3 separate regions of the Homo sapiens genome follow, and all the other regions are linked to region 3. Evidence: fine-mapped expression QTL. A gene starts in region 3. Each other region holds a variant in brackets. All regions are shown on one strand. Distances are between the middles of the regions.

The links. PIP is the estimated chance that this variant, and not a neighbour inherited with it, causes the effect.
Region 1: its variant is fine-mapped to the expression of RAD52 in whole blood (INTERVAL, PIP above 0.99).
Region 2: its variant is fine-mapped to the expression of RAD52 in whole blood (TOPMed, PIP above 0.99). The same link has a PIP of 0.9 or more in lymphoblastoid cells, testis and tibial nerve.

The regions. Positions count from the first base shown.
Region 1 is chr12:887,772-898,189 of GRCh38, reverse strand. WNK1 (WNK lysine deficient protein kinase 1) reads right to left here. Exons shown (of 28, transcript NM_018979.4): 21 at 8,967-9,050; 22 at 7,677-7,737; 23 at 3,555-3,628; 24 at 1,458-2,119; 25 at 509-711. Among named protein-coding and RNA genes, the nearest start is that of RAD52, 57 kb to the left of the region's middle. The variant C/T (reference allele first, on the strand shown) is at 5,337.
Region 2 is chr12:869,767-880,184 of GRCh38, reverse strand. WNK1 (WNK lysine deficient protein kinase 1) reads right to left here. Exons shown (of 28, transcript NM_018979.4): 9 at 8,837-8,920; 10 at 1,824-1,973; 11 at 154-612. Among named protein-coding and RNA genes, the nearest start is that of RAD52, 75 kb to the left of the region's middle. The variant C/T (reference allele first, on the strand shown) is at 5,801.
Region 3 is chr12:944,216-954,633 of GRCh38, reverse strand. RAD52 (RAD52 DNA repair protein) reads left to right here and starts at 4,940. Exons shown (of 12, transcript NM_134424.4): 1 at 4,940-5,032. RefSeq lists enhancers at 4,718-4,987, 4,451-5,109, 5,538-5,617, 5,110-5,768.

The sequences.
Region 1 (10,418 bases), 56 kb after region 3:
TTCTTTAACCCAATATAAATGAAATAAAAACCTTAATCAAGAAGTTACCACTTAGACATACACACAAATATCTATATGACGATTACATTCATCTAAGTTGCAATTATGACTAAGTCATCCATTAAAACAAAGAATCTACCCAAGTTTTACTAAACAGAGAATAATGTATTTTCTTCCAACTGCCCAAGAGTTTGGTTAAATGTGAGTTATACGAGTTAACAGGCAAAGCTAAATGTCTATCCTTAAGAATAACTATAAATAAAGATTACCAGTAGATAGCAATATGGATTACAATGGAATAAGCCATTGTATTCACTAAGTCTACTTCTATAGACTCAAAAAGAGGTACAATAAATGTAAGTACAGCAGTCAAGGAAGCAAAAATATCAGGAGAGCCAAATTCCTTTGAAATTTAACAAAAACAACAAATGTTCAGCAGGTCACATACAGCTGGAGACAGAAACAAAAGATAGGACAGCTGTGGCTGACCTAGTCCAGGGCTTTTTACCTGAAAGCTGGGGGCTTTTATTCCCCAAGGAACTGCTTCGACTAGATTTGCTGCCTTTGCTTTTAGTGGGTCGTCGTCTTCTCCCTGAAAGGGGAGCAGCTGGGGGAATAATAACAGCAGGGGGCACCTTGCCCAGTTTGGTATACAAAGATTCAATTTCATGCTTCTGGCGACTCTGCAGGTCCTGAATCTCTTTGAGATGTCTGTGAAAGATAACCAAACATAATTCAAAATACCATAATCCTCTTCATTCAGACAAGAATTAACAGCATATTCCTAAACCTGCTTTCAAGTATGTAGTAGTTACTAATGAACCTTTTCCCCAAATGTACTACCACGAGATTCTAGTTTGTCAACTCACCTTGCTGGCCTGCATTACCCAAGCCATGTTCCAACAAGCTCCTAGCCAACAACAAATGGTTGATAATGTTTTAGGAGAAAAACATTTCCTGACTTTTGAGGCCACGCACACAATAGCTGAATTTGCTACTCTGACCCAATCTGCCAAACAAAACGTGCCAAATAATCATACATCCCAGTGCCAGATTCATTTAGTGGACTAATAAATAAAGAGCAGTTAATAGTGATACAATATGCTATTAATAAAAATAATAATACAATACAGTAACAATAATACAGTAATAATATAGTAACAATGAAGAAGTTCTAGAACTAGAAATGCTATGGGTCTGTATGAGTGCAAGAGAAGCTGCCTGTGCCTGTGAGTCAGTGGTTGGGAATCGTGTGTGTGTGTGTGTGTGTGTGTGTGTGTGTGTGTGTGTGTGTGTGTGTGTGGTGGGGAGGTATGGGGTGGGGCTTCTGTGGCACTGTCTCTTTAAAAGAAATGAGACATTAGCATATTGTGGCGAAAAATATTATTAATCTTGGCCCTGGGATCTAGGTCTGAAAACCTTATCTGACATTCTTTCACAAGAGAAAATATACTTACTTATCTCGTAGTCGTCGCAGCTCTAACTTTAAGTCTTCATCTTCGATATCTGACTCATTGTCGCTACTCATGTAAGAGGAGTTAAATGAATTACTAAGGCTTTGACTTAGATTCTGGCTAGGAAGGCTCTTTGAGCTCAGCTGATGGGGCGAGTGTGGACTACCGGAACCATCATCCACATCCCTACTTAAAAAAGCGGCCTCCGGGTCAGAAGACGGCCCATTTAGATGTGAAGGCTCTGACAGTTCAGGCTTCTCTTTCTTTGGTATCACAGCAGGAAGAACAGCTTGTTCCAAATCCATAAAAGGAGGAGATGCCACTGGTCCTTCTTTCTTTGTGTCAGTGATCTTGTCCTCAGTTTTTGATACAGAGAAACGACCCACTTTGTTTGCTGTAGTTGTCACCTGAAAACGTCCAACCTTGGTAGGCTGCCCAGTGTCTGACTTTGCCTCTGAGGCAGTAGTTTTGTGGGCACTCTCTGGCACATCTGAAGAGATACCAGGGATGGTTATGCCATTCGGCTCTGGTTTCACCAAGGTACTCTCTGGACTACTACTTGATAGCACTGAGGACTCTGAGGTGCTGGATTCAAAATGAACAGACTTTGCATCTTCTGACTTATTTTTACCCTCTTTCTGGGCACCGTCTGCTGCAACAGAAACCTGATAAAAAAGGACAAAGATTAAAAACTTAAGTTCTCAATATCCAATTTCTATCACAGACAATTTAAAAAAGGAAAAAAAGAATCACTTTATTTCCCTGTCAAAGAGTAGGCTGATTGTCTCTTTACATAGCGCCTCCACTTTTGACTAGGAAGAAAAATTGAATACCATCATAGAGAACACATGGGTACTGAGATGCAGATTCTGTGTGGCTGGCTACGCTTATAAAGTAAATAATTTACTTTCGTATTTGATGTCATACACAGAATTCAGATTTATGTCTTAGTCAACATATACATAACAAAAGGTCAGGGCCAGGCATAGTGGCTCATGCCTGTAAGCCCACCATTTTGGGAGGCTGAAGCAGGTGGATCACTTGAGGTCAGGAGTTTCAGATCAGCCTGGCCAACGTGGTGAAACCCTGTCTCTACTAAAAATACAAAAATTAGCCAGGCATGGTAGCGTGTGCCTGTAATCCCAGCTACTTGGGAGGCTGAGGCAGGAGAATCACTTAAACCCGGGAGGCAGAGGCTGCAGTGGGCTGAGATCATGCCACTGCATTCCAGCCTGGGTGACAGAGTGAGACTCCGTCTCAAAAATAAATAAATAGATAAAAATAAAAAAATAAAATAAAAGTAAATAAATAAAATAAATTAGCAAGGCATTGTAGAATTTTTAGGGTTGCCTGTGAATAAGAAAAACTACAAGGTAAATGTTAAATGCCTGGTATGCCTCAAGAATCAACACAACTAACTGGTAACTAAAAAAGAGGATCCAGATCCTTGTTCTGGTTTGTCCATGTATTTACAAATACAAACTCAGCCCACCTATAAAGGTTCAGGACCTGTTTACAAATGAGAAAAATATCACCTACTCTCCCCAGCCAGAAAATGCTCACATGTTGGACAACCTGGTAAAATAAAGTGATATGGTATCATGTGTTTTAATTTAAAGAATTAATCTTAGGACAATTATTTTAAACGTGGAAAACATTTTTATACACAAAGATGTTTGCTGTTACTTAACTTATTATGTTGGAAAAATGAGAAATGATGATAGAGACTGGTTAGGTAAACCAATTACTGGATGGGAAAAAAAGCTGTAACATTTGGAACAGGAGAAATGGTAGTTAATTTTAGATAAACACTTGTACAGAAAACAAGGAGTGGAAGGAAATACACCCCAAAAAGTAATCTTGGGAGGTGGGTGGATAGATAGTACGACTATCTACCGTGTCTCTACTGTTCTAAGTATTTCTATATTTTATTTAGTATATATTACTTTTATTAGGAAAATGCTAAAAAGAGCTATAAAGTACTATGTGACAGAAATCACTAGACTGGCAATTGTGTCCCAAATAGGTAGGCAGTAATTTTATTATATAGACAACTCCTCCAAAGGAAGGAATCAAGGCAACACAAAGTGACTGTCTTACCTGAAATCGTCCCATCTTAAAAACACCAGCTCCTGAACTAGTTGCTAGGACAGGGCCTTCTTTGACTTGAGAAACTGAAACAAATACATGGATGAGGAAAACATAAGTGTCTCCTTCCAGTTAACTTCTTTTCCCTTTAGCTAGAAATACAGCAAAATCAAACTACACATGAGGAAAGCTGTTAGAGGCAAAGAGAACTTCCTTATCTCCTCCCTCCATGAGGCTCTGTCCAACAGGGGAAAAGAGTTATTGTTTGCTCTACTACTAGATACCAACTACAACATTAACATATACTATAAAAACAAAGGTTAACAGGCTTTAAAAACTCAATTACTCATTCTTTAATTCAGATATATAAGTAAGTGAAATGAAGGATGAGATTTTACTGAGGACATTAAGGACCCATCTTTATTTTATTGAGATGGAGTTTCGCTCTGTTGGCCAGGCTGGAGTGCAGTGGTGCGATCTCAGCTCATTGCAACCTCCACCTACTGGGTTCAGGTGATCCTCCTGCCTCAGCCTCCTGAGTAGCTGGGATTACAGGCGTGTGCCACCACACCCGGCTAATTTTTATATTTTTAGTAGAGACGGAGTTTCACCACGTTGTCCAGGCTGGTCTTGAACTCCTGACCTCAGGTAATATGCCTGCCTCAGCCTCCCAAAGTGCTGGGATTACAGGTGTGAATCACCATGTCCAGCCAAGATCCATTGTTAAATGAAAACCAGCTAATTTTATTTTCTCAATGTAACACTGGCAAATTCTAGAATAGGATAGTACAGTTCTCAGAATTATTATTATTATTATTATTATTTGAGATGGAGTCTCACTCTGTTGCCCAGGTTGCAGTGCAGTGGTGCGATCTTGGCTCACTGCAAGCTACACCTCCCAGGTTCATGCCATTCTCCTGCCTCAGCCTCTCGAGTAGCTGGGACCACAGGCGCCCACCACCACACCCGACTAATTTTTTGTATTTTTAGTAGAGACGGGGTTTCACCGTCTTAGTCAGGATGGTCTCGATCTCCTGACCTCGTGATCTGCCCGCCTCAGCCTCCCAAAGTGCTGGGATTACAGGCGTGAGCCACTGCACCCAGCCCTCAGAATTATTTAGTTTTGGGCAATTTAAAAACCTTTCCGGGGAACAATGCTTTGAGTTTCTTTCTAGAGATATATTTATTTTATACAGCTAGTAGAACATTGAGCGATTTTTATGTTTTCATGTAATTCTATATCTTTGAGATCATTCCATATCAATGCCTCATTCTTTTTAATGATTGCATAGTGTCATACCCTATGTATATACCATATATATATTTCATATTTAATCAGGCTTCTACTGATGGGCATTTAAATTATTCAGAATTTCTTTTCTTTTTTCCCTGAGACAGGGTCTCACTCTGTCACCCAGGCTGGAGTACAGTGATGCCATCACAGCTCACCACAATCTCAACCTCCCAGGCTCAGGTGATCCTTCCTCCTCAGCCTCCTGAGAAGCTAGAACAACAGGTGCACACCACCACATCCGGCTAATTTTTAAAATTTCTTGCAGAGATGGGGGTCTCACTATATTGCCCAGGCTGGTCTCGAAATCCTGGGCTCAAGCAATCCACCTGCTTTGGCCTCCCAAAGTGCTGGGATTAGAGGTGTGAGCCACCATGCCCGGCCCAGAATTTCTTGCTATTTTAGAAATAAATATTCTCTTATAGATCTGTACAATAAATATACCACAATGAAAGTGCTGAATTATTTCCATTTAAGACTGTAGTAGACATCACTATTATAAA[C/T]TGATCCCCCCAGAGGCTGTACCAAGTCACTGGTGGCTATTAGACCCCTGAATTTACCAATGAGAGGTGGGAATTGCTATCACTTGTAGCCTTACTTTGTGTTTCTATCATTACGGACATTAAATATTTTCATGTCTAAGTTTCCTTTTCTGTTATCTTTTGATTGTTTTTTGGTTCATGTTGAATTTTAGGAACTCTTTGTATTAGCAAAACGAGTTCTTTTTGTGATATGACTACACATACCCCTCCCCCTCCCACAAATATATATATTTCCCCAGTTTTTCATTTATATTTGCAATCGGTGGCACTTTTCTTCCATGAAGAAAATTTTATATCTATTACTACTTGCTTCTGGATTAGACATTGAACTTAACACCTCTATTAAACTTATCTGAGAACTCCAAACTGATCCATGGACCAAATTCAGCCTACTGCCTGTTTTTGTAAATAAATTCTATTGAAACACAAACTCATTTATTTATGTATTGTCCATTGCTACTTGTGAGATCTGAGTAAGTTGCAAGAGACTATATGGTCTAGAAAGCCTAAAATTTGTACCATCTCGCCCTTTACAGAAAAAGAGTTTGTGAACCCTGCTCTAGATAGTTGAAAAAAATCCCCTTGGGACGGGGGAGGGATGGCATTAGGAGATATACCTAATGCTAAATGACGAGTTAATGGGTGCAGCACACCAACATGGCACATGTATACATATGTAACAAACCTGCACGTTGTGCACATGTACCCTAAAACTTAAAAGTATAATAATAATAAAATTAAAAAAAAAAAAGATTTCCAAGCCACAAAAAAAAAAAAAAGTTAGTTATAATGTGGGATCTGAAATAATAGTAATAAGATATTCATAACTGTGGCCATTAAAATCCATTGACCTATACATTTTTTTGTTCATGCATGATTTTTTTTTTGAGACAGGGTCTCACTCTGCCACCTAGGATGGAGTGCAGTGGCAAAACCATAGCTCACTGTAGCCTGGAACTCCTGGGCTCAGGCAATCCTCGTCTCAGCCTCCCGATTAGCTAGGACTACAGGCATACACCACCACAGCTGGCTAAATTTTTGTCTATAGTGAAAAAGGAAAATAATGTCTTAGTTTTACTGTAAAATAGTGTTGCCCTCATAGGCACCCCAAAAGGGTCCTCAGCCCACACTCCAAGAACTGATGCCTTAATACTATGCAATTCTCAAGTTGTTATTACTAATAAATTAAAAAACTAAAAAAAAAAAAAAAAAGAAAAAAAATCCCCTTATGATTTCATATAGTACTATTTTATGATATAATATTTCATCTTTGGTCCACTTGGACTTTACTTATGTCTAGGCTAGTGATCCACCTTTGCTTTTTTCCAGATGGCTTTCAAGTTGTTCTAAACCACTTATAAAAATATTCCATCTTTCAGCCAGGCGCGGTGGCTCACGCCTGTAATCCCAGCACTCTGGGAGGCCGAGGCGGGCAGATCACCTGAGGTCAGGAGTTTGCGACCAGCCTGACCAACAGGGAGAAACCCTGTCTCTACTAAAAATACAAAATTATCCAGGTGTGGTGGTGCATGCCTGTAATCCCAGATACTTGGGAGGCTGAGGCAGGAAAATCGCTTGAACCTGGGAGGTGGAGGTTGCAATGAGTCGAGATGATGCCACTGCACTCCAGCCTGGGCAACAAGAGCAAACTCCACTTCAAAAAAAAAGAAATATTCCATCTTCCAATGATTTGAAAAGCTACCTTTTTCATATTCTACATTCTCTTTTTATTGGTAGTAATCTTTATTATTTTCATTGTACATACTTGATACTCTACATATTTTGATAATCTACATTCCCCTTTCATTTTTCCATTTCTAGACCATTCTAATGATTTGCAAATCACTTTTAAAATGAGAGCCAATTGAGAATATAATTGCCTTGAAAATAAAAATGTTTAAATTGATTAACTGAAATCTTACATTTGTATTTCAATACAAATATATGTCCAGACTATTCAAGCTTCTATCCCTATATATCCAGTGTCACAAAAGCTAAGAGGTTATCAGTAAATTTACTTTTCTAAATACAGTATGCTTTAATTTCCTAATCTCTAATAGCAAGGATCTGGCATAGCTAATAATGAAGGGTCTTATCATTACCTCCTGTATAACCTTTCCTCTGACAAATAATAACGGAACAGATTTATTAATTTGCTAATCTTTCAAGCTTTAGATATTACTACCAATGCTCCTCAGTTATCAAATACGTGGAAATGTGTCTTTGAAACGGTAAACCTCCTGAATCAACTACGGGTAGGGCTGGAATTAGTAATATAAAAGGAGGAAGGATGTTTCTCACCACCCTTCTGAGGCTGTGTTCCTGCTTCTGTGATTGCTGTTGGAGCCGCCATGGACACAGGCTGTAAAACACACACAGACAGACACCACAAATCTTTAGCTTCAGTCACTCAAACTTTTGCCTCGTTGCCTTTCCTATGGTCTTTGTAAAAGGGCAGAAAGACAGTATATGTGATGAAACACTTATGTCTGAGAACATTTTATCTTCTTTCCTTTTTCTTTTAAAGTCTAAAAGTCTGATGTAAAGAAAGGCACCTTTTAGGGCCAGGCATGGTGGCTCACACCTGTAATCCCAGCATTTTGGGAGGTCAAGGTGGGCAGATCATTTGAGGTCAGGAGTTCGAGACCGGCCTGGCCAACATGGCGAAACCCCGCCTCTAATAAAAACACAAAAATTAGCCGGGTGTGGTGGCGGGCACCTGTAATCCCAGCTACTCGGGAGGCTGAGGTAGAAGAATCACTTGAACCTGGGAGGTGATGGTTGCAGTGAGCCAAGATCGTGCCACTGCACTACAGCCTGGGTAACAGCGCAAGACTCCTGTCTCAAAAAAAAAAAAAAAAAAGGTACATTTTAAAAGAATGAATTTCTACTCTTAATTCTTGATTGCTTTCTTAATTTTTCTCATAGGATGCTTAAGGGTATAACTTGGATATTCACAGAAAAACAGTTTCAATCAAAACATTATTATTATTTTTGAGATGGAGTCTCGCTCTGTCACACAGGCTGGACTGCAGTGGTGCAATCTCGGCTCACTGCAAGCTCTGCCTCCTGGGTTTTACGCCATTGTCCTGCCTCAGCCTCCCGAGTAGCTGGGACTACAGGCGTGCACCACCACACCTGGATAATTTTTTGTATTTTTACTAGAGATGGGGTTTCACCGTGTTAGCCAGGACGGTCTCGATCTCCTGACCTTGTGATCCGCCCGCCTCGGCCTCCCAAAGTGCTGGGATTACAGGCGTGAGCCACTGCACCTAGCCCAAAACATTATTTTATCTGACAAAATTTAGCCTCCTCTGAAACAAAAATACGAAATCCATAGAATTGATCTATGGCACAATCTGACCAGACGTACAACTAAAAAAGCACCTTTCAAATAAAATCTTTTCCATAGTGATACTCCTGAGTCAGCATGAATCTTTCATTAATCAGTCTCATTTCTTTTGGCTAGAATAAGCAGGAACTCTGAATACATGTTAAAGGTATTAATAATGGTTTAGGTTACAGTTTGTGTCCCAGGCATATAATATATTAGGGTTATGAGGAGATTTTATCAAGATTTTCAAAACTTACACCAACCGCAGAAGTCACTGTGATCATCTCTGGACTAAGTGTTCTTCTCAATTGAGCATCAAGATCCTCTAGAGGTTGCTGGGACTGAATGAAAACAATCACAGTAAATACAGTTCCGTGGCACCTTCAGAGTCACGATATATAGCCAATTTAGATAGGACACACTGTTTTATGCTTTATATTGGCACAACATAACATTTGTCTTTATGGAACATACAAAACTATACTCAAATTTAGTGTACTGCTTTGATTATTTTGCCAGTTTCTCAAGATTGTATGTCAGACTCTCAAGGCTCAGAGTAGTTCATGTTTTTGCAGTTTAAGAGAAGTCTTATTACATTCTATGTTTGATGTTACTCAAAACGGTAGAAAGAGTTATTTATTTGTGCGACCTTTAAAATATATTGTGAAAAATGTACAAAGATCTACTGGTAGATTCACTGTATCTCATGTTCCCTCTTTTCTTTCTCAGTTTTATACATCTTTCTGGGAAGGTGCCCCTATGAATAAAAGATGGCATTAACATATTCTGTCACTATCACAGGGTATTATTTTCCTCTTTCTTACATGTATACTTCTTCCCTACAGATGGTGGCAAGGAGGTCTGGGTATTCCATCCTGTTAACCATTCCATCCACCGCAAGCACACAGCTTCCTTCTACCCTTCCACAGTCTAATCCTACATCTGTCTTGGCTTCTATCAATCTATTCTTGCACAGTCTTTGCTTAGGCCTTTCCCTCTATCTAGGCACTAGCTATTTACCCTTACCCCTCCACATGTCTCACTTGCTATTTTTTGTCACACTTTATACTCCCTTAGAAATCTGAATCCATGTTTTTAAATGAGAAAATAAGTTTAAAACTAATTTTCTAACTCCTGATTTACGGACTTTCACAATGCACTTTCCCCCAAATGTGGTGGCTGATGGAGTGCTTTCTCTGTTGGGGTTTTTACTTCATTGTGGCAAGTTCCTCAAATAGTGTTCCCCTGTACATTGGGACCAAAGAAATAGGGATAAATTCCAACTCAGCTTCTCAAGTAAGCAATTTACCATGTTTTTCTTATTTCTTATATATGATTCAAAAATAAATTCCTAATTTAGTTTAAAAGTTTACTGGCTTGTCTCATGTCAGAAGATTTTTCCTGGTCACAACAGATTCACAATTAGTACTTTTCTTATGGAAATTCAACAAATGTGTTGGCGGTGGACTGCGGTGGGAAAGAGAAATAATAAATATTACAGGTAATTCTGTCCACCACTGCACTCAAGTGAGCAGAACTGTGTGAGATGGGAATCTCAAGTTCATGAGGCTGGTCTCAGTTCCTCCATGAGTGATCTCATAATGTTAGCATCTCACTGAGCTCGGTGGCTTTTATTTTAAAAGAGACAGCACACATAGTTTTCATGAAACATCACCCCTATACCTACCTATAAGTAAGCTAATTCCTTC
Region 2 (10,418 bases), 74 kb after region 3:
TATCCAATCCTTTCTCAGAATTTTACTATTTTGCTTCTCTAGTTGACATGTTATTGCTAGTTATTCTGACACTCAACTATTAGATTTCCATGTTCCTGATGATCTACTAGGATCAAACTCTGTGGTGCCCTCTTTTGCTAACTAACACAATACCTGGTACAGAACATCTCCAGAGGAAAGTGGAACCTCAGCAGCTTGTCCAAGGTTAGCTGGTATTCCCATGGACTGAACTGCTGGTTGTAGGAGCTGTGGGTGAACCTGACTTGGCAGCTGAGTCACAGGCTGCAGAAGGGTTGGAAGCTGACTAGGAACCACAGTTGATACCCCCGGGATCGCAGCTGTTGTAGCAGATGAAGCCAACGTGAGCAGAGGCTGAGTAATGCCAGCTGCCATTGTGATGGGAAGGGATGAGAAACCTGTCTGAGCCGTAGACACATGAGGAGTTGATATGGGAATCTGAGAGACAGGGTACTGAGGGAGCAAGGGAGTAGGGAGCGGCTGTCCCACTGGAAGGAAATGAGCACCAGAGTGGACTGGAACAACCGAGGGTTGTGTCGCAACTGGGATCTGAGGTTCGCCTTGGATAGTTGGTACTGGCTGGGAAACTGGAAGCTGGGAAGGTAAAGAAAAACAAAACAGACAGGCTTAAAAAAAAAAAAAAAAAAAAAAAAGCAAGGCTGCCAAAAGCAAGATTTATGTATTAGCCAAAAAGAAGGAAAAAACAAACAAAAAAAAAAACACCAAACCAACAAAACCCTGCATACATTAGTGTTAAGTTAATATGCCACATAAGAATATGGAAAGGAGAGCAGGAGAGAAAGAGGCTAAATAGACTATTACTGTTCTACACCTTTTGTCATAGAAATATTTGCTAATGCTTCAGCATTTGGCAATAGAAGAGGACCCTTCCATAGACAAGGGGTTGGCTTTTTTTTTTAACAGCTTTATTGGAATATATTTTATATACCATAATGCTATCACTAAAGTTACGACTGCTGTTACAGTAGTTACTGAAATTCAAATGAATTCCTTCCCAGTGGAATTAAGATTTCATTCGTATTATTTCTAAAATTCTTAAGTCCAACATGGCTCAATAAAAATTGGTATAATTCACATATTTCACTCATTCTAGGATGCAATCATCCCTCTCCACTACCTGATCATTTTAACATGTGAGAAATTGGGATCTACTTTATAACTGATAATGTGGTACATAAAATATGGTACATTTTAAAGTTGATAGCATCTCAGATGTGATGAAATATTAGGGTAACAATACACTGTGCACATACATGCACAACAGTACTCAAAAATAAAGTTGAAAAAAGGTCATTCAGAAAAGCATACCTTCTACAGGGTACTTCTCAAGTGATTAGGAGGACTACTTAAGAAAAAAAAACATTCCACACAGTAAACAGTGCAGAAATCTACATGAAAATAAAGCATAGTTTCAAACCTAGAATATCAGACATAGCTGACACAATTCTAGGGAATGTCATAGGTTCAGTTACCAGAGCACCTTTATTTAACCTGTTATTTCTAATACCTGTTACATCAATTTTGGACTGGTAAGACTAGAAGTGAAACTTTGGATTGTCACTGCTGTCAGTAACGTACCCATTTACATTAAATAATGCATATGCACCAATGAGGTGATCTTCACTTCATTTCTGCAATGAGATTAACCTACTTCAAGGGTTGGTTACCCTTAGAAGAAAAGGTAGAAGTCTATCCACATGAAAGGACAAGTTACATGGAAATCCCTTTTAGCACCCTTTCAGAAATTAAGAGTTTACCTGTTTAAAAAAAAAAAAAAAGTTTACCTGTTTTCCAGCTGATACTTGAGGCAAGACTTGTGGAGCTTGAGGCTGACTCACTGGCTGTGCAGTAGTGGCCTCACTGGAGGTTGATGTCTGTGAAAGTGAATACTGCACTGTCTGTTGAGGAGGGGCTGTCTGCTGTATTCCCTGCTGCTAAGAATAAAATACAATGATTCAGTTTTATTTCAAATCAATAACAGCATGTTTCTAAGGAAGCATGTTTACCTAAAGCCTTCAGTGTCTGTAAATAATGATGATTTTAGTAATCAAGACATGCACAAACCCAAATTCATCAATTTCCATTATATATTTGTTTTCCCTCTGATGTTCTTTGTGATGGTGCCACCAGGAAAAATTAACCAATCTTTTAATACTCAAGTTACCATTGGCTCTTCACCCAATTATCTCCCTCACCCCAACAATAGGTCTTTACAAAGACATTTACATAACATATCCAGACAGTTCCTTTCCCCATCCCATCCCTGCCATTCCCTTTTCCCTATCTCTTGGCATCAGCTCTCTCTTTGGCACCTATATCAGATAGATCCAATAGCTTCCTTTAATCTTTTTTCCTTACCCTATTTTATCAACTGTATAATTAATATGCTTGAAGAATAGCTTTGATTATAGCTACAAAATAGGGAGGAAAGCACTGGATTTGGAATAACAGACATTTTCAAATTTTAGCTTTAATATTTACTAGCTGTTAATGCCTTAGATTGCTTATTTTATTAAAAAAATGAAGTTTCTCTTTTTGAAACAAGGACATTATTTTTTAACTCAAAGTGGGGCAAAGGGAATGACACCTGGGAATCTACTATGTACTAGGGACTCAAGTATAATTTAATGCATGGTGCGTAATTATACACCTAATTTAATGCATGGAACATAACTGTACTCGAATACTAAATTCTGTAATAAATCAAGCAAACAAAACCAAACAAAACAGGACTATGACCCCTAGAGTACTGCCCCTTCTGTCTAACAAATAAAAACTTGAGGCTGGGCGCGGTGGCTCACGCCTGTAATCCCAGCACTTTGGGAGGCTGAGGTGGGCAGATCACCTGCGGTCCAGAGTTCAAGACCAGCCTGACCAACATGGAGAAACCCCATCGCTACTAAAATTGCAAAAAATTAGCCGGGCGTGGTGGCACATATCTATAATCCCAGCTACTCAGGAGGCTGAGGCAGGAAAATTGCTTGAACCTGGGAGGCGGAGGTTGCAGTGAGCCGAGATTGCACCATTGCACTCCAGCATGGGCAACAAGATCGAAACTCTGTCTCCAAAAAAAAAAAAAAAAAAAAAAAAAAATGAAGTTTAGGGCTGACTTTCAAGATCTTCTAATACCTAATTTATATTTTTTCTTTAATACAACATCTGCTTGTAATAAAAATTTTAACTAGTACATCATATTATAAAGTTAATGAAAATACCCCTAATCCTATTCTCCAGAGGTAACCACTATTAGTCGTTTGGTGCATAACCTTCATGGATTTTTTTCTATGCGTAAGTGGCCATTTTCACATAGTTTTCTTTTTTTGTTAAAATAAACAAAACAAAAACATGCCTTTCCTATACATAGTGTTCTATAGCATACTACTTTAATTTCTAAATGGCATCAGTCTCCTAATGATAAACACTTTGGTTGTTTCATTTTTGCTACTTAAAATAATGCTGCAACCAACAGCCTTTTACGTATGTGCTGGTATACCCATACGACTAATTGGTTACTGCTGGTATAAAGATAAGCTATTTATTTGTACATTTATTATGTATCTTGCCACCTTGATAAGTGTCTTAGATTTTGTTAGGTGATAATCTACAAATAATATTTTTGCTCTTCTTATATTTATGTCAATTAAAATCACCAAAAGAATGCTAAAATATAATGGCAACAGCAGTCATGTTTGGTTTATTCCTATTTAATTATTTCTGATAATGTATTCTTTTTTTTTGACACGGAGTCTCGCTCCGTTGCCCAGGCTGGAGTGCAGTGGCGCGATCTTGGCTCACTGCAAGTTCCGCCTCCCAGGTTCATGCCATTCTCCTGCCTCAGCCTCCTGAGCAGCTGGGACTACAGGCGCCTGCCACCACGCCCGGCTAATTTTTTGTGTTTTTAGTAGAGACGGGTTTTCACCATGTTAGCCAGGATGGTCTTGATCTCCTGACCTTGTGATCCGTGCACCTCGGCCTCCCAAAGTGCTAGGATTACAGGCGTGAGCCACCGCGCCCCGGCCTCTGATAATGTATTCTTATTTTAACTTTTAAAGAAGCAGAAATGGCTGCTGAATTACATGAAATTTATTTTCTGCAAACTAAGATAAACCACATGTAGCCAATTCTAAAGGTGCTCTGAATATAAGACAAATTTGTTAATTTCCCACCTGAGAAAAAGGAACTAAAAAACCAGAAAACCTTTTTTATTTGCCAACTTGAACAAATTTAAACTTTAAGGAATGTGAATGAGATATCTATAATTATCTAACTCATTAATTTACACACGTAAATAAGATTGCATATTAAATATATTAATTCAGAAATACTGCTCCCTCTCCCCCAAACTCTACATAGGTAAAGACACCAGCATCTTTACCTTCACTGAAGCTAAATTATGAACGCTCCTGCAGTTTTCTGGCATAACATAACACATTCCATCTAAGTTGTATCTTCAGGTAAAATGTGCAGTGAAAAGCACCTATTTACATAACATTAAAATAAAACTAGATTTTTTTTTCCTTTCTCTTATAGGTTTTTATTCATGTAACCCTTATATTGACATCTTAAAGAGATCTTTAAGCCAGTTGTTTAAAATCACATACAGTCCTCAGAATAGTGAAGTCATATTGCTGAGAATAAGGACTAAATTTATGTTTATTCCTTAAAAATATTCTGTCTGATGTTCTCAATGAACATTTCTAACTACATGAGCTGAAGTCTTTGCAGGCACATTTGTTCTCACCTGTTTCATTTTATTTCATTAACCTTTTTTGGTTTGTTGTTGTTCAAAGTAAAGGACAGTGAAAACCCTGTAATATGAGAGTACGATAAAGGTCTGAATACATGGTTATTCCCCTCTTTTCTAACGGATAAATTTGAGGAAGAATTCCCATGTTATCTTTGGGCATATGGTAATCATATGCTCCCAGCCCCCAATACATCCTCCTTAATTCAAAATTATGCTCATATCAAAATTTAGACTCTATCAACTCTTTCCTGAACTTATACCTTCACATATCTATGCTCTAGTTAAACCAAACTAAAGGCACATTTGTTTTTGTACCCTATTTTTCTATCTTAGGGCCTTTCACATTGCTCACAGTATAATTTTTTTATCTTCTGGCCTGGAATATTCTTTATTTCTACATCTGAGTCTAACTTATAATCAAAGTCCATTTCAAATGCCTCCTTTTTCCTAAAGTCTTCCTGATATTCCCTTTCCTGCTTGGGAGAGATGTTAATTTCTTCCCTTTTTTTGGACATAATTGGGTAGTAGTCAAATGGTGAGCTGTGGAATTAGATTATTTGGATTTAAATTCTGTTTTTACCTCTTATAAGCTGTAAGTTTGGGTAAACTACTCACCTTCTCCAGATCTCAGCTTTCCCATCAGTAAAATGGAAATAATTATAGCATCTATACTTATAGGGTTCTTAAAACGATTAAATGAGAATGTAGGTACAATGTACAAAGCACTTTAATATTAGCTATTATCCTTATTTGTTTTTTAGAAATTTACATATATATTTACTATATTATTTAGACTCTTTCAAAGTAGTCATACCTGGTCCAGCTCGGTAGACCTTCAGTATCTGAACTCAATTAGGAAAAAAAGCTGAAAGGACTGTCAAAAATGAGCAGTTTTATGGACAAATTATTTCTTTGCTTAAGACAACTGAGAGGCATCTATGACAGTGACCCTTGTATTAACATCTTAAAGAGATCTCTAAACCAGTTGTTTACAATGGCTAACGGTTAATGTTA[C/T]ATCTTAGAGCATCTGGGGAGAAGTGTCACCTCTGGATATGCCAGAAGTACATGATGATCTGCTGTGCGCAGTCCCACTGACTAATAATCAGCACTTCAGCCAGGCAGGGGTGGTCTAGCTTAACAGTTTAGCATCATGCTCTGCCCAAGCTTGCCTCATGAAACCAGTTCAAACAGACTTTATGGATAGTAGGGTAGGTAGTTCACAACTTCGGTGCTTTTTTTTTTTTGAGATGAGTCATGCTCTGTTGCCCAGGCTGGAGTATGGTGGCAATATCATAGTTCACTGTAGCCTTGAACTCCTGGGCTCAAGTGATCTTCCTGCCTCAGCCTTCCAAGTAGCTGGCACTGTGTCTGACAAAGTTCACAACTTTGTTTGTGGTCACAAAGCTTTTCAGCAGGAGGCAGCTATTTTTGGTACCTTGCTAAGATCTAGTATATCACTATACGAGACCCTACAAAAACACACAAAAAAGCAATTCCTCATTTACTATGTTCAAGAAACGCATGAAATAAAGTAAATTTTAGCAAAAGTATATTTCTTTCCTCACTAAAATAAAACAAGAGATATGGTTCTCTAAGGTGGGATTGGGACCTGAAAGTACGTAAAACAAAAATCATGTCTAAAAATAGACTATCCATATAGTACAAAAAGTTTTCAACCTTTCTTTTTTCAAACGTGGAACTCCAATAATTAAAACAAATAAAGACAGCTTCTGAGGTACATTTGCAGAATCATTAAGTCCCTGCAGAACTTTATTTAAAATGGAAGAAACAATACTATTCTAGGAATCTTGAATTCTGGGTTATAATTTGTAGCTCCCTTATTATCTAAGTGACTTTGGAGAAGTTAATTATTCTAGACCGAATACACTTCCTATATATATCGAGGGCTCAATTTTGTGATTCTACAACACATGCTATAAAAGTATCTAAAACAAAAACATCACTGAAACAAAAATTAATTTTTGTTTCTGCTGTAGAGATAGCATTTAGCCATATTTTTTTCTCCTGGAGAGGTAGCTACCTAATTCTTTTAATCTGACATTTATGGTACTGCTCTCTTCTTTTCTCACACTCTTTCTTAACATGAAACTCAATGAATTATTTTATTATCTTCTTCATTTGATAGTAAGTATACATACATATCCCCAAATACAAGACAGATAACCAATTCCTTTGGAAAAGAAAAAACAGAGCACATACAATTTGCTCAGTTCATTGGTGTTCGTCTACATCCAAAGATAAGCAAGTTAGGAGATTAGTACTCAGTACTTCCATTCTCAACCAGCTTTATGTGACTTGTAATTTGCATTCTAATTAGGAACTGTTAATAGAATAAAACAGATTTTGTTAAGGTTGGCAAAAATATGTTTACTTGAATTTAACCAGTCTTGTTTGGAAGAAAGGACAGGTGCAAAACAAAGCATATAAGTCCCAGTCCTTCAGTTCACGGAGTGAATGCATGTATAAACAAACTAATCAACTGTTTCTGTAGAAAGTGCCTTTAAGTGATTTTCATCTTGTACAAGCAACTCCTGATCTTAAACCAGTATCGAATGACTACATGACCATATGTTGGACTGAAAAAGGGCCATTTGTAATTAAGAACCGAAAACTTTGTTTCAAAACCAAAAACTAATAGAAACAGAAGCCAGTTTAGAGTTTGCTGATTAAAAAACCCACATGGGGAACTAACATTAGGAAGTTTGCATTACATACATAGTGGCTACAAATTTTATGTAGAATAGCTAATAAGTATTCAATTATGCCAAAAATGCATTATTCCCTTGCAAATAATTACTATTAACTAATATCAGTGATGCACTATAAATATTTAATTTTAGAATTACCAGTTTTACTGTTGGATGTATCAGGATGACACTAATCTCTTGAATTCCTTGAACTTTCTGGAACAAGCCCCCCAAAACAAAAGTTAAAATATTTTGGCTGGGCACAGTGGCTCCCAGCACTTTGGGAGGCCAAAGCGGGTGGATCACTTGAGGTCAGGAGTTCAAGACCAGCCTGGCCAACATGGTGAAACGCCATCTCTACTAAATTAGCCAGGCATAAGTAGAACGTAATACAAAAATTAGCTGGGCATAGTGGCACGCGCCTGTAGTCCCAGCTACTCGGGCGGCTGAGGCGTGAGAATAGCTTGAACCTGGGAGATGGAAGTTGCAGTGAGCCAAGATTGCACCACTGCACTCCAGCCTGGGCAACAGAGCAAGGCTGTCTCAAAATAAATAAAAATAAATAAATAAATAAATGTTCTTGAAGTAATTGTTCTTAGGTTTTCATTAGATGCTTCTTAGCGTAAAATCTGACACATCATTCTACAGATTAGAAATAATTAAAAAGAAGTGCAGGATTAGTAGAGGCAAGCACAATGAAGGTAATGACAAATCACTGCTGCAAGCAGTGGAAAAAAAGAGAAAAGGAATGACATACTCTTTGTACCGTAAATTATGTGTAGAATCCAGGCTGGGTGAGGTGGCGCATGCCTGTAATCCCAGCACTTTGGGAAGCCGAGGAGGGTGGATTACCTGAGGTCAGGAGTTTGAGACCAGCCTGGCCAGCATGGTGAAACCCCGTCTCTACTAAAAATACAAAAATTAGCTGAGTGTGGTGGCAGGCACCTGTAGTCCCAGCTACGTGGAAAGCTGAGGCAGGAGGACTGCTTGAACCTGGGAGGCGGTGGTTGCAGTGAGCTAAGATTGCACCACTGCACTCCAGCCTGGGTGACAGAGTGAGACTTTGTCTCAAAAAAAAGGTGTAGAATCCTCTTTTAAAAAGATAATTATATCAGTAATAATGTATGTCTACTAAATTGTTCAAAAGTATATTAAACAAAAGAGATTTTTCTGAAACACAGAAAAGTCTCTTTTTTTTCTTTGTTACTGAACACAAGACATGGTATGCCTCTTAATTTTCCTTTCAAAAACTTAGCAGGCCATTTATATAACAAATCACAAAAGTTAAAATAGTGTTCTGGCCACTGCTAATTCATAAAATGTTGCAATGCATTGTTCTCACCTGCTGAGGATGTTGTATGGGTTGGGAAGATGAAACCCCTGTTAAGCTACTTGAGGATGGCTGACCCTGGCTCTGCCCCTGTGCCTGAAGGAAAGAAGTGAACACAACAAATTAGAGAAGGCCTAAAGTAAGTGTATAGAGGTCAGGCTTTTGCAATGAATATTTAATCTCCTCAGAGTTTGCTTGATCAAAATGAAACATTAACCTGATTATGTATGGGAGAGGCCTCTGGGTCAACTTTTGTAAGAAAAATTTAGAAAAGGATCATACCACACAACATGTTCTGATCCCAACCCATGCAAAACCCACTGACAGTGAAAACCTAAGCTGTCAATGCTGCTCAGGCTGTAATTTTAGCTGGCTAGAATCGTCAGATTCATAATAAAATTTGTTATTAGAAATACAATAATCAGGAACAAAGTATTAATACTATCAATCTGAAATTTATCTGAAGAATTAAAGAAAGGTATTTGGTAATGCTAATTTGGTAATACTTCTTGTAGTGCCACAATGACTTTTATCAAAAGTATCAAAAAATCTGTTATCATCAACTGCCAAGTACCTAGGGCGATCATTGCTATCCAGGAGCAATCCTGCCACCCCCAGGGGGGCACTTGGCAATATGTGGAGACATTTCTGGTTGTCACAACTGAGGGAGATTGCTGCTACTAGTATTTAGGAGGTATAAACCAAGGATGTTCTAAATAGCCTACAATACATAGAACAGCCCACCACAACAAAGAATTATCCAACCTCAGATGTCAACAGTGTTGAGTCTGAGAAACCCCAACTACAGTGTTTCTCACTAGAAAGTGAGAAATGATGCAGGACTATATATAGGTATGTTAACGAAATGAAAAGGCTACCACTTTTGTCATTCCATTTCAGTTTACAAGGGGTTCCTTAAAGCTTACATGGATATAATATCACATTCCACTGCAGCTTAACTATTATAAATATTGATTCCTTCTGTAGTATGTCTATAAATTAACTACCTGGTATTTTTTACTTTGGAAAGTCTAAAGGATAATTACTGGCAATACATTAATATTTATAATAGGGGCTGCAACTTGAATACTGATGTGAATATACTGCATGCCCATGTATAGCTGTCAAGCTTCTGGATCTTTTTGTGTCTTAGTACAGCACTAAATAATTGATAATTTGTGCACATTTTGGGAGTTGTTTATGCTCCTGATGAGGGAAGAACATAGGAAGAAAGTAGGAAGAACAACACATAGTACTTTATGTAGGATATCCAAATGTCTTCAATATATAACTGCATAGTCTTCTATGTAGATTTTATAAGATGTACACATTTGATAAAATATACCAAATGAATATATGAAACAGTAAACACTGACTGTACTTTTGAATTCTATTACATTCATTACATTGTCTTTATTTGCTAAGTGTGTATATGCTCATACACATAAATAACTAAAATTAAATTTGTTGAGGAAAATACAAGGCCTAAGATGTCTACTGTTCCTTAGCTTGCAACATATCACAAATTCTTATAACAAAAAAAAAAAGCCCACCACTCACTAGATTGTTAGTTGCTAAAAATTAGAATCAGTCC
Region 3 (10,418 bases):
GGGATGAAGTCTTGCTCTGTCGCCCAAGCTGTAGTGCAGCAGCACGATCTCAGCTCAATGCAACCTCCACCACCCGGGTTCAAGCAAGTCTCATGCCTCTCAGCCTCCCGAGTAGCTGGGATTACAGGTGCGTGTCACCACACCTGGCTAATTTTTGTATTTTTTGTAGAGACAGGGTTTTGTCATGTTGGCCAGGCTGGTCTCAAACTCCTGACCTCAAGTGATCCACCCACCTCGGCCTCCCAAAGTGCTGGGATTACAGGCGTGAGCCACCGCGCCCAGCCTGTTATTGTAAAAAATTTAAGGATTTCTGTTTAGGAAATGACACTATGGACAAAGTTAATAAGCAGCTAACAGAGTAAGAGAAGATATTTACAAAGTCAAAATCTGACAAGAGATTAATATCTAGAATTTCAAAGAATACCTTCACATCAACAAGAAAAAGGTAATGACTACATACAGAAATGGGTGAATGATATGAACAGCCAATTAAAAAACCAGAAAACCAAAAACTGAGCATGCACAGGAAGTGCTTAAAATCATTAGTAATCAGAAATATAATTTTTTTAAAAAAGATAACATTTCACACTCATTACACTGCCGAAAGTTGTGAATCAGCATGATGTCAAGAATTGGCAGGGGTGTGGACATACAGGAACCCTCATGCAAGGGCGGTGGAGAGCAAGCTGTCATTACTCAGGCAAATAAAATAGACGTCTGTCACCCAACGGTTCCACTGCTGTGTGTACGGAACGCTCTCACACAGTTTATAAAGGAACATGTAGGAATATGTTCACTGTAGTATTATTTATGATGTTCACAGTGGGGAAGGTAGATGGGCGAAATATGGTGGATGTACACCATGGGAAATGCTGTGGCAGGCAGGCACGATGGATTAGAAATCACATTGTGTTAGTTTCCTAAAGCCATTGTAACAAATTACCACAACTGGGTGGCTTAAAACATCAGAAATTTAGCTTCTCTCAGTTCTTGAGGCTCTAAGTCCCAGATTAAAGAACTTGGCACGGCCATGTTATGAAGTAAATAATACTACAGTGGATATGTTCATGTATGTCCCTTCGTAAATTGTATGAGGACTTTTTGTACACAGGAGTGGAATCACTGGGTCGTAGACATACACTTTATTTGACTAAGTAATGACAGCTTGCTCTCACAGCAGGGGAGGATACTTCCTTGCCTCTTCCAGTTTCCGGTGGCCTCATGTTCTTTGGCTTCTGGCATAATGACTGCAATCTCTGCCTCCATCTTCAGAGGGCTGCCTTCCTTCTGTCTTTGTCTCTGTTTTCTTATTTTTATTTTTATTTTTTTTGAGACTGAGTCTCACTCTGTCGCTCAGGCTGGAGTGCAATGGCACAATCTTGGCTCACTGCAACCTCCACTTCCGGGTTCAAACAATTCTCTTGCCTCAGCCTCCCGAGTAGCTGAGATTAAAGGTATGTGCCACCATCCCCAGCTAATGTTTGTATTTTTAGTAAAGACGGGGTTTCAACATGCTGGCCAGGGTGGTCTCAAACTCCTGACCTCAAGTGATCCGCCCCCCTCCCAAAGTGCTGGGATTACAGGTGTGAGCCACCTGGCCCGGGCGTCTCCCTTCCCTCCCTCCCCCTCCCCTCCCCCTCTCCCCCCTCCCCTCCCTTCCCCTTCCCCTTTTCCCTTCCCCCTTCCCCTCCCCTCCCCTCCCCTTCCCCTCCCTTCCCTTCTCTTCCGTTCCCTTTCTTTTGAGACAGAGTTTTGTTCTTGTCGCCCAGGCTCAAGTGCAATGACTATATCTCGGCTCACTGCAAACTCCACCTTCCAGGTTCAAGCAATTCTCCTGCCTCAGCCTCCCAAGTAGCTGGGATTACAGGCACCCACCACCATGCCCAGCTAATTTTTGTATTTTTAGTAGAGACGGGGTTTTACCGTGTTGGCCAGGCTGATCTCGAACTGGCCAGGCTGGTCAAGGCGATCCTCTCGTCTTGACCTCCCAAAGTGTTGGGAGGTGTGAGGCACCGAACCCAGCCTGTTTTCTTATAACAGCAATTATATTGAAGAGGGTCTATCCTGAATTGAGTATGACCTCATCCTACTTGATTACATCTACAAAGACCCCTCTCTAATTAAGGTCACATTCACAAGTACTGGAGGTTATAATTTCTACCTGTCTTTTTGAGGAACACAATTCAACCCACAACAAAGAATAGCAGGAACTATTTTTAAAATGTAGTTTTTAGAGCTGAGCATGGTGGTGAGCACCTGTAGTCCCAGCTACTCAGGAGGCTGAGGCAGGAGGATTGCTTGAGCCCTGGAGTTTAAGACAAGCCTGAGAAACATAGTAAGAACCCCTCTCTAAAAAAAATTTTTTTAATTAGCCAGGCATAGTGTCATGCACCTGCAGTTCCAGCACTTTGGGAGGCCAAGGTGGGAGAATTGCTTGAGGCTAGGAGTTCAAGACCAGCCTGAGCAACATAGCAAGACCCTGCCTCCACCAAAAAAATGTTTTTTTACTTAGCTGGGCATGTAGCCTCTGTAATCCTAGCTACTTAGGAGACTGAAGCAGGAGGATCACTTGAGCCCAGGCATTTGAGGTTATAGCGAGCTATGACCGTGCCACTGCACCATAGCCTGGGCAGCAGAGTGAGGTGCTGTCTCTTAGAAAAAAAAGTTTTTCATAAAAAAAAAGAAAACAATATAATATATACAATAACATGCAGGTAGGTAACTTTAAAATACATTTACCCCAAAAATTATGTTTCAGAATTTATAAAATTCAGCTAAAGGAGTTCTTAGAGGAAAATTTATAGTTTAATAGTTTAAATGCCTTTACTTAAAACAAAAAAAGGTTAAAATCATAAGAAACAAAAAGAAAGAAAAGTAAAGTAAACCTAAAGTGAGCAGAAGAAAGGAAGTGATGAAGATAACAATGAAAATCAGTGAAACAAACAAATGGAAAAACAATTGTAGTAATTAATAAAACCATGAGCTGGTTCTTTGAAAAGACAGGTAAAATTAATAAACATCTAGCTGGACTAGTGAAAAAAGGAGAGGACACAAATTACCAAAATCAGAAATGAAAGGACACAACAAAGAAAACAACAGAGTGAGAGAAAATATTTGCAAACCATATATCCAATAAGGGGTTACTATCCTATTCTAAATATGTGAAGAAAGCAAACAACTCATAGCAAAATCAGATCACACGACTAAAAAGGGGGCAAAGGGCACCAGGTGCACTGGTTTACACCTGTAATCCCAGTGCTTTGGAAGGCTGAGACAGGAGAATTGCTTGAGGCCAGGAGTTGTGAAAAGCCTGGACAACATAGAAAGACCTTGTCTCTACAAAAAAATTTTAGATTAGCCAGGTGTGGTGACATATGCTTGTAGTCCCAGCTACCTGGGAAGCTGAGGTGGGAGGATCACTTGAGCCCAGGAGTTAGAGGTTGCAGTGAGCCATGATTGCAGCACTGCAGTACAGTCTGGGCAACAGCTTGATAGCTTGAGACCCTGACTCTTTAAAAAAAAAATCATTTATCAAAAGATGACATACAAATGATCAACAGGTTCATAAAAATGCTCAATATTGGCTGGGCACAGTGGCTCACACCTGTAATCCCAGCACTTTGGGAGGCTGAGGTGAGCAGATCACCTGAGGTTGGGAGTTCGAGACCAGCCTGACCAACATGGAGAAACCCTGTCTCTACTAAAAATTCCCCAGAGGCTGGGGAATAAGGGGCTGGGGGAGATAATGGGGAGATGAAGATGTTGGTCTCAGGGTACAAAGTTAACAGTTAAACAGGAGGAATACAATTTTGAGATTTATTGCACAGCATAGTGACTATAGTTAATAATAATTTATTGTATATTTCAAAATTTCTAAGAGAGTAAGTTGAAAATATCTCGCCACAAAAAGAATGATAAGTGGGCTAGGTGCAGTGGCTCATACCTGTAATCCTAGCACTTTGGGAGGCTGAGGCAAGAGGATCACTTGAGGCGAGGAGTTCAAGACCAGCCTGGGCAACATAGCAAGACCCTGTCGCTACAAAAACTTTTTTTTTTTTTTTTGAGACGGAGCCTCGCTCTGTCGCCCAGGCTGGAGTGCAGTGGGGCGATCTCGGCTCACTGCAGGCTCCGTCCCCCGGGGTTCACGCCATTCTCCTACCTCAGCCTCCCGAGTAGCTGGGACTACAGGCGCCCGCCACCACGCCCGGCTAATTTTTTGTATTTTTAGTAGAGACAGGGTTTCGCCATGTTGCCCAGGCTGGTCTCGAACTCCTGACCTCGTGATCAGCCCGCCTCGGCGTCCCAAAGTGGTGGGATTACAGGCCTGAGCCACCACGCCCGGCCCCAGGGGACATTCTAGAGGGGACTTCGCCCCCCAAGCCGCACTTCTCCATTTCCCTGCGGTCGTCGCTAACCGAAGGCGCCATCCGGTGACGACTGGATGTGCGCGGCGGTGGTGAGAGGCCGCGAGAACCACCAGGTCCACCGCTGCCTCGGCCCGGGCGGAATCTGGGAAGGTCTCTGACAACCATTCATCCTCAGATTTTCCCAATTGTGCATGGGTGGGCGGGCCCCGCATCCTAATGGGCACTGGGCATGTGAAGTGTGAACCACCCGGGCCTAACTAGCCGCTGAAGGCCTGACGAAACCGCCAGGCCCACCAGGGGGCAGCAGAGATCCGACGGCCGCGGACCGAGGGAAGCTGGCGGGAAGTAGGAGGCAGAGGGCGCGCAGGGAAGCGGCAGGGCGAGCGGCTCAGAACGTAAAAGCCAGCACCGCGCCTCCAGGTTGCTTTACGGCTGCCGCAGAAGGCTTTGCGGCTCTTTTCCCCTCCGACTTGATTTACGGTTCCTTCTCTGGTCTGTGTTTTTTTTTTTCCCCCTCCGGCGCTGGGCGTGGGTTCGGACCTTCTTCCCAGAGACGCTCGCGCACCCTTCCCATTCTCCTCTGCGCGGCCTCCATCTAAGATCTCTTCCCCTTGTCCATAGCCTAGATCGAGCTCCCTGTGTGCACCGCGCGCTGCCCGAGGCGCGTAAGTGGGGGAGGAGAGCGGCTTCCCCCGGGGTGGTTCTAGCCGTGGGTGTGGAGCGTGGGAAGGCTCAGCTTCCGGGTCGAGAACCTGGGGCTGCGGTGGACCTGATCCTGAGGTCTCAGCGTAGAGATGCTGAGTCCAGAGGCCTGTTCTAGTTCACCAGTGCAGTGAGGGGCTCAGTATCCGGGCCTCCCGAGAGGTGGGTAGGAAGGCGGGGTACAGGAAACTTGGCACCAACGCGCCGGGACCCCACCGCGGTGCGGACAGCCAGGTGTCCGTGGTGGCGCTTCCTTGGAGATGCTGCCTGCAGACAGGCGTGGGGAATCTGAAGTTTGTGTTAATAGCTAAACGAAGTTGAGTTGCAGGGAGCGGGGGACGCTGGGAAGAAATGATTGATTTAAAAGGAATTTGACGCCGGGCATGGTGGCGGCATGCCCCCATGTTCCCTGGAGGTCAAGCCTGCAGTGAGCCGAGATCGCACCCGTACCACGACACTCCGTCCCGGGCGACAGAGCGAGACCCTGTCACGGGGGAAAAAATAAAAATAAAAATTTGACGCTCACTTTAGCTGAGTATTGAGCCTTGTTATAACATTGAGATAGAGGTCTGGCGCGGCGTCTCACACCTGTAATCCCAGAACTTTGGAAGGCCGATGCGGGAGGATCGCTTGAGGCCAGGAGTTCTACGCCAGCCTGGCTAACATAGCGAAACCCCGTCTCTACTAAAAATACAAAACTAGGCAGGCCTGGTGGCGGGCGCCTGTAATCCCCGCTACTCGGGAGGCGGAGGCATGAGAATCGCTTGAACCCAGTAGGCAGGTGTGCCGGTAAGCCGACATCGCACCACTGCACTCCAGCCTGGGGGACAGAGCGAGAATCCATCCAAAAAAAAAAAAGTTATAATTCACGTACAATTAAATTCACTCCCTTTTTTAAAAAAAAGTGGAGACATAGTCTCGCTCTGTTGCCCAGGCTGGAGTACAGTGGCGCCGTCTCGGCTCACTGCAACGTCCGCCTCCTGGGTTCAAGCGATTCTTTGCTTCAGCCTCTCAAGTAGCTGGAATTACAGGCGCATACCACCACACCCAGCTACTTTGTATTTTTCACCATGTTGGTTAGGCTGGTCTCGAACTCCTCGCCCTTCCAAAGTTCAGGGATTACAGGTGTGAGCCACCACACCCAGTCTAAATTCACCCTTTTAAAGTGTGCAATTCAGTGGTTTTAATATATTCACAAGGTTGTGCAATCACCACTATTATCTAATTCCAGAACATTTTTATCATCCCTAAAAGAAACCTTAAAACCATTAGCAGACACCCATTATTTCCTCCTACTCCCAGCAGCACTAATCTATGAATTTACCCATTCTCAGTACTGTATTATACAATATTTGTTCTTTTGTGTTTGGTTTATTTCACTTCATGATTCAAAGTCCATCTATGTTGTATGTAGCATGTATCAACTTCATTTTTTAAATAACTGAATTATTTATTGTGTGGATATACCACATTTTGTTTCTCCATTTTTGATGGATACTGGTGATTTTCTAGGCTTTCTAGGTCTAGTCCTCCACAGAACTCGCAGTCTGAGGCACAGACATTTAAAACTTAAGTTTTTGGAAACTAGCATTTAACTCTTGGGTTGGGTCAGGTAATTCAGTGGCCTCAGGTCTGGTATCGTTTAGGGCAGTTTTTTTTTTGTTTTTTTTTTTTTTTTGAGATGAAGTTTCACTCTTGTTGCCCAGGGTGGAGTGCAATGGCGTATCTGGGCTCACTGCAACCTCACCTCCTGGGTTCAAGCGCTTCTCCTATCTCAGCCTCCTCGGTAACTGGGCTTACAGGCGCATGCCACTATGCCCGGCTAATTTTTGGTATTTTTAGTAGAGACAGGGTTTCACCATGTTGGCCATGCTGGTCTCGAACTCCTGACCTCAGGTGATCCACCCATCTCGGCCTCCCAAAGTGCTGGGATTACAGGTGTGAGCCACCGCGCCTGGGTGGGAGTTTTGTTTTTTTGTTTGTCTGTTGTTTTTTGGGGGGACAGAGTTTCTCTCAGCCTCCTCGGTAACTGGGCTTACAGGCGCATGCCACTATGCCAGGCTAATTTTTGGTATTTTTAGTAGAGACAGGGTTTCACCGTGTTGGCAATGCTGGTCTCAAACTCCTGACCTCAGGTGATCCACCCGCCTCGGCCTCCCAAAGTGCTGGGATTACAGGTGTGAGCCACCACACCTGGGCGGGAGTTTTGTTTTTTTGTTTGTCTGTTGTTTTTTTGGGGGGACAGAGTTTCGCTCTTGTTGCCCAGGCTGGACTGCAGTGGCGAGATCTTGACTCACTGCCACTTCTGCCTCCTGGATTCAAGCGATTCTCCTGCCTCAGCCTCCCGAGTAGCTGGGATTACAGGTGTGCACCACCACACCCGGCTAATTTTGTATTTTTAGTAGAGAAGGGGTTTCTCCATGTTGGTTACGCTGGTCTCGAACTCCCTACCTCAGGTGATCCTCCCGCCTTGGCCTCCCAAAGTGTTGGGATTACAGGCGTGAGCCACTGCGCCCCTCTGGGAGTGTTTTTTAAAGTGTTCTATTCTCAGTTCACCACTTACCAGGCCGTTAATTATCGTGGTATCAAGCAGAGAAATGTTTGTGTGCTGGTCTTCTCAGGGAGGCAGAAACCGTCAGAGATTGCTGTTGTGTAATGTACACCAAAACGTGTTATCTTGTAGTATAAACGGTGTAGTTGGAGATGAGTGTATGAAAAATGTAACTGAGCTAGCTGTGGGAGAGACTAGTTGTGAAAAATTTTGAGTCACCCACTGTATGCTTTCCCAGCTATGTTCAAATAAGGTGACACTCTGCCTTCCTGTTTCAGCTCTAAAACTGTTCATAAGTGTTATTTTGGCTGTATACGTAGTGCCATGTTTTTTTGTATTTTTGTGCTTTTGGTGATTTTGCTGTTTATAGGGGCCTCCAAGAATAGAAGTGCTGTCTAGCATTTCCAAGTTGAAGGCTGTGATATATCTTATAGAGAAAAGATAAGCTTTTAGATTAGCTTTGTTCAGGCATCACTTTTGTTGTTGGCTGTGAGTTCATGTTACTGCATCAACAATATATATTAAATAAGATATCTTTAAACAGAAGCACACATAAAACAAGGTTATGTATTGGCCTGTTGAGTAACCCTGTATTTCCCCTGGGAGCAGTGGCTCAGTATTTGCTAGTTCAGTGTTCATGATGGCTTTACAGGACATAACTACCCTGAATAATGAGAACTGACTGTCTCAGTAGTGCTTCAAGGGCAGAAAGCCTAGTGGATATTTTTCCATCTCTGCAGCTTTTAGCATTTCTTCACTCAAGGCACTCATTTTTAATATTGAACTGGCAGTTTTGATGTGGAGAGAAGCTAAAATAAGGCTAAAATGCTCTTCATACTATGTGCTGAGTGGGGACTGTGCTGAGTGTTGGGGATTCAGTGATTAGTGTATGGCCCCGCAGTTCTCTAATGGCTGAGTGTGGGAGTGCAGAGAAATGATCAGTGTGAGGGAATTAATCCTATGTTCCCACCGTGTTTTTTTGTTTTTTTTGAGACGGAGTTTCACTCTTGTCGCCCAGGCTGGAGTGCGGTGGCGTGATCTCGGCTCACTGCAACCTCCGTCTCCCAGGTTCAAGCGATTCTCCTGCCTCAACCTCCCGAGTAGCTGGGATTACAGGTACCCGCCACCGTGCCCAGCTAATTTTTGTATTTTTAGTAGAGACGGAGTTTCACCATGTTGGCCGGGCTGGTCTCGAACTCCTGACCTCATGATCTGCCTGCCTCGGCCTCCCAAAGTGCTGGGATTACTGGGTTCCCACAAATTTTAAGACTTACTTCAGGCCAGGTGTGGTGGCTTATGCCTGTAATCCCAGCATTTTGGGAGGCCGAGGTGGGCAGATCACCTGAGGTCAGGAGTTCGAGACCAGCCTGGCCAACATGGTGAAACCCCTGCCTCTACTAAAAGTACAGAAAATTAGCTGGGTGTGGTCGCGCATGCCTGTAGTTCCAGCTACTCAGGAGGCTGAGGCACCAGAATCACTTGAACCTGGGAGGTGGAGGTTGCAGTGAGCTGAGATTGCGCCACTGTACTCCAGCCTGGGCAACAGAGTGTCTCCCCCTCAAAAAAAAAAAGACATACTTCAGAGTGTGGTGAGCTGCATAAGGCTTTAGAGGTAATGACATTTTGAGATTTCAATTAAAAATTTTTTTTCTACTTTTTTTTTTTGAGACAGAGTCTCACTCTTGCTCAGGCTAGAGTGCAGTGGTGCGATCTTGGCTCACTGCAACCTTCGCCTCCTGGATTCAAGCGATTCTTGTGCCTTAGCCTCCTGAGGAGCTGAGATTACAGGCACCTGCCACCATGCCCAGCTAATTTTTGTATCTTTAGTAGAGAAGAGGTTTCATCATGTTAGCCGGGCTGGTCTTGAACTCCTGACCTCAGGTGATCTGTCTGCATTGGCCTTCCAAAGTGCTGAGATTACAGATGTGAGCCACCGTGCCTGGCCACTTTTTTTCTACTTTTGCTAATTTTTTTAAAGTTTCATGAACATTATAGTACTGTGTTCATAAATGAAAATAAAAGAAACTTGCTCCAGTCTTGTTCATCAAGCCGTTCTTGACCTTCACAGTCAGAATCTCACCCATCACCTTGTCACATCTCCCTCTTGATCTGTATATCCAGAGTCCACCTGACATGCTTCTTCAGCCCTCCACATATAATAAGAAATGGTTTTGTGAGCCGAGATTGTGCCATTGCACTGCAGCTTGGGCAACAGTGTGAGACTCCTCAAAAAAAAAAAAAAAGAAAGAAAAATGCTTTTAGGTGATAAGGAAATGGAGAAGAATAAAACATCTTTGCCAGTCTTTACCTTTTTAATATCTTGAATTCATGATTTCTTGCCATAGCCACTATCCTAGTCCAGGCTCTCTCCCTTCTACCCCTGAGTTTTTTTTTTTTTTTTTTTTACCATGTTTTTATTTCCTCTGGGAAAACACCTATCAGAATTTTGGGATCATATGACAGATACATATTTAATTTCTTTCTTTCTTTTTTGAGACAGGGTCTTCCTCTGTTGCCCAGGCTGGAGTGTAGTGGTATGATCATGGCTCACTGCAGCCTTGACCCCTTCCTCGCCCCCGCTCAAGTGATCCTCCCACCACAGCTTCCTGAGTAGCTGGGACTGCCGGCATGCTCCACCATGCCCGACTAACGTTTTGCTGCTTGTAGAGACAGCCATGTTCCCTAGGCTTGTCTTGAACTCCTGAGCCTCAAGCGATCCTTCCACTTCAGCCTCAAGTGCTGGGATTACAGGCGTGAGCCACCACTCCTGGCTACTTAATTTCTTTCTTTCTTTTTTT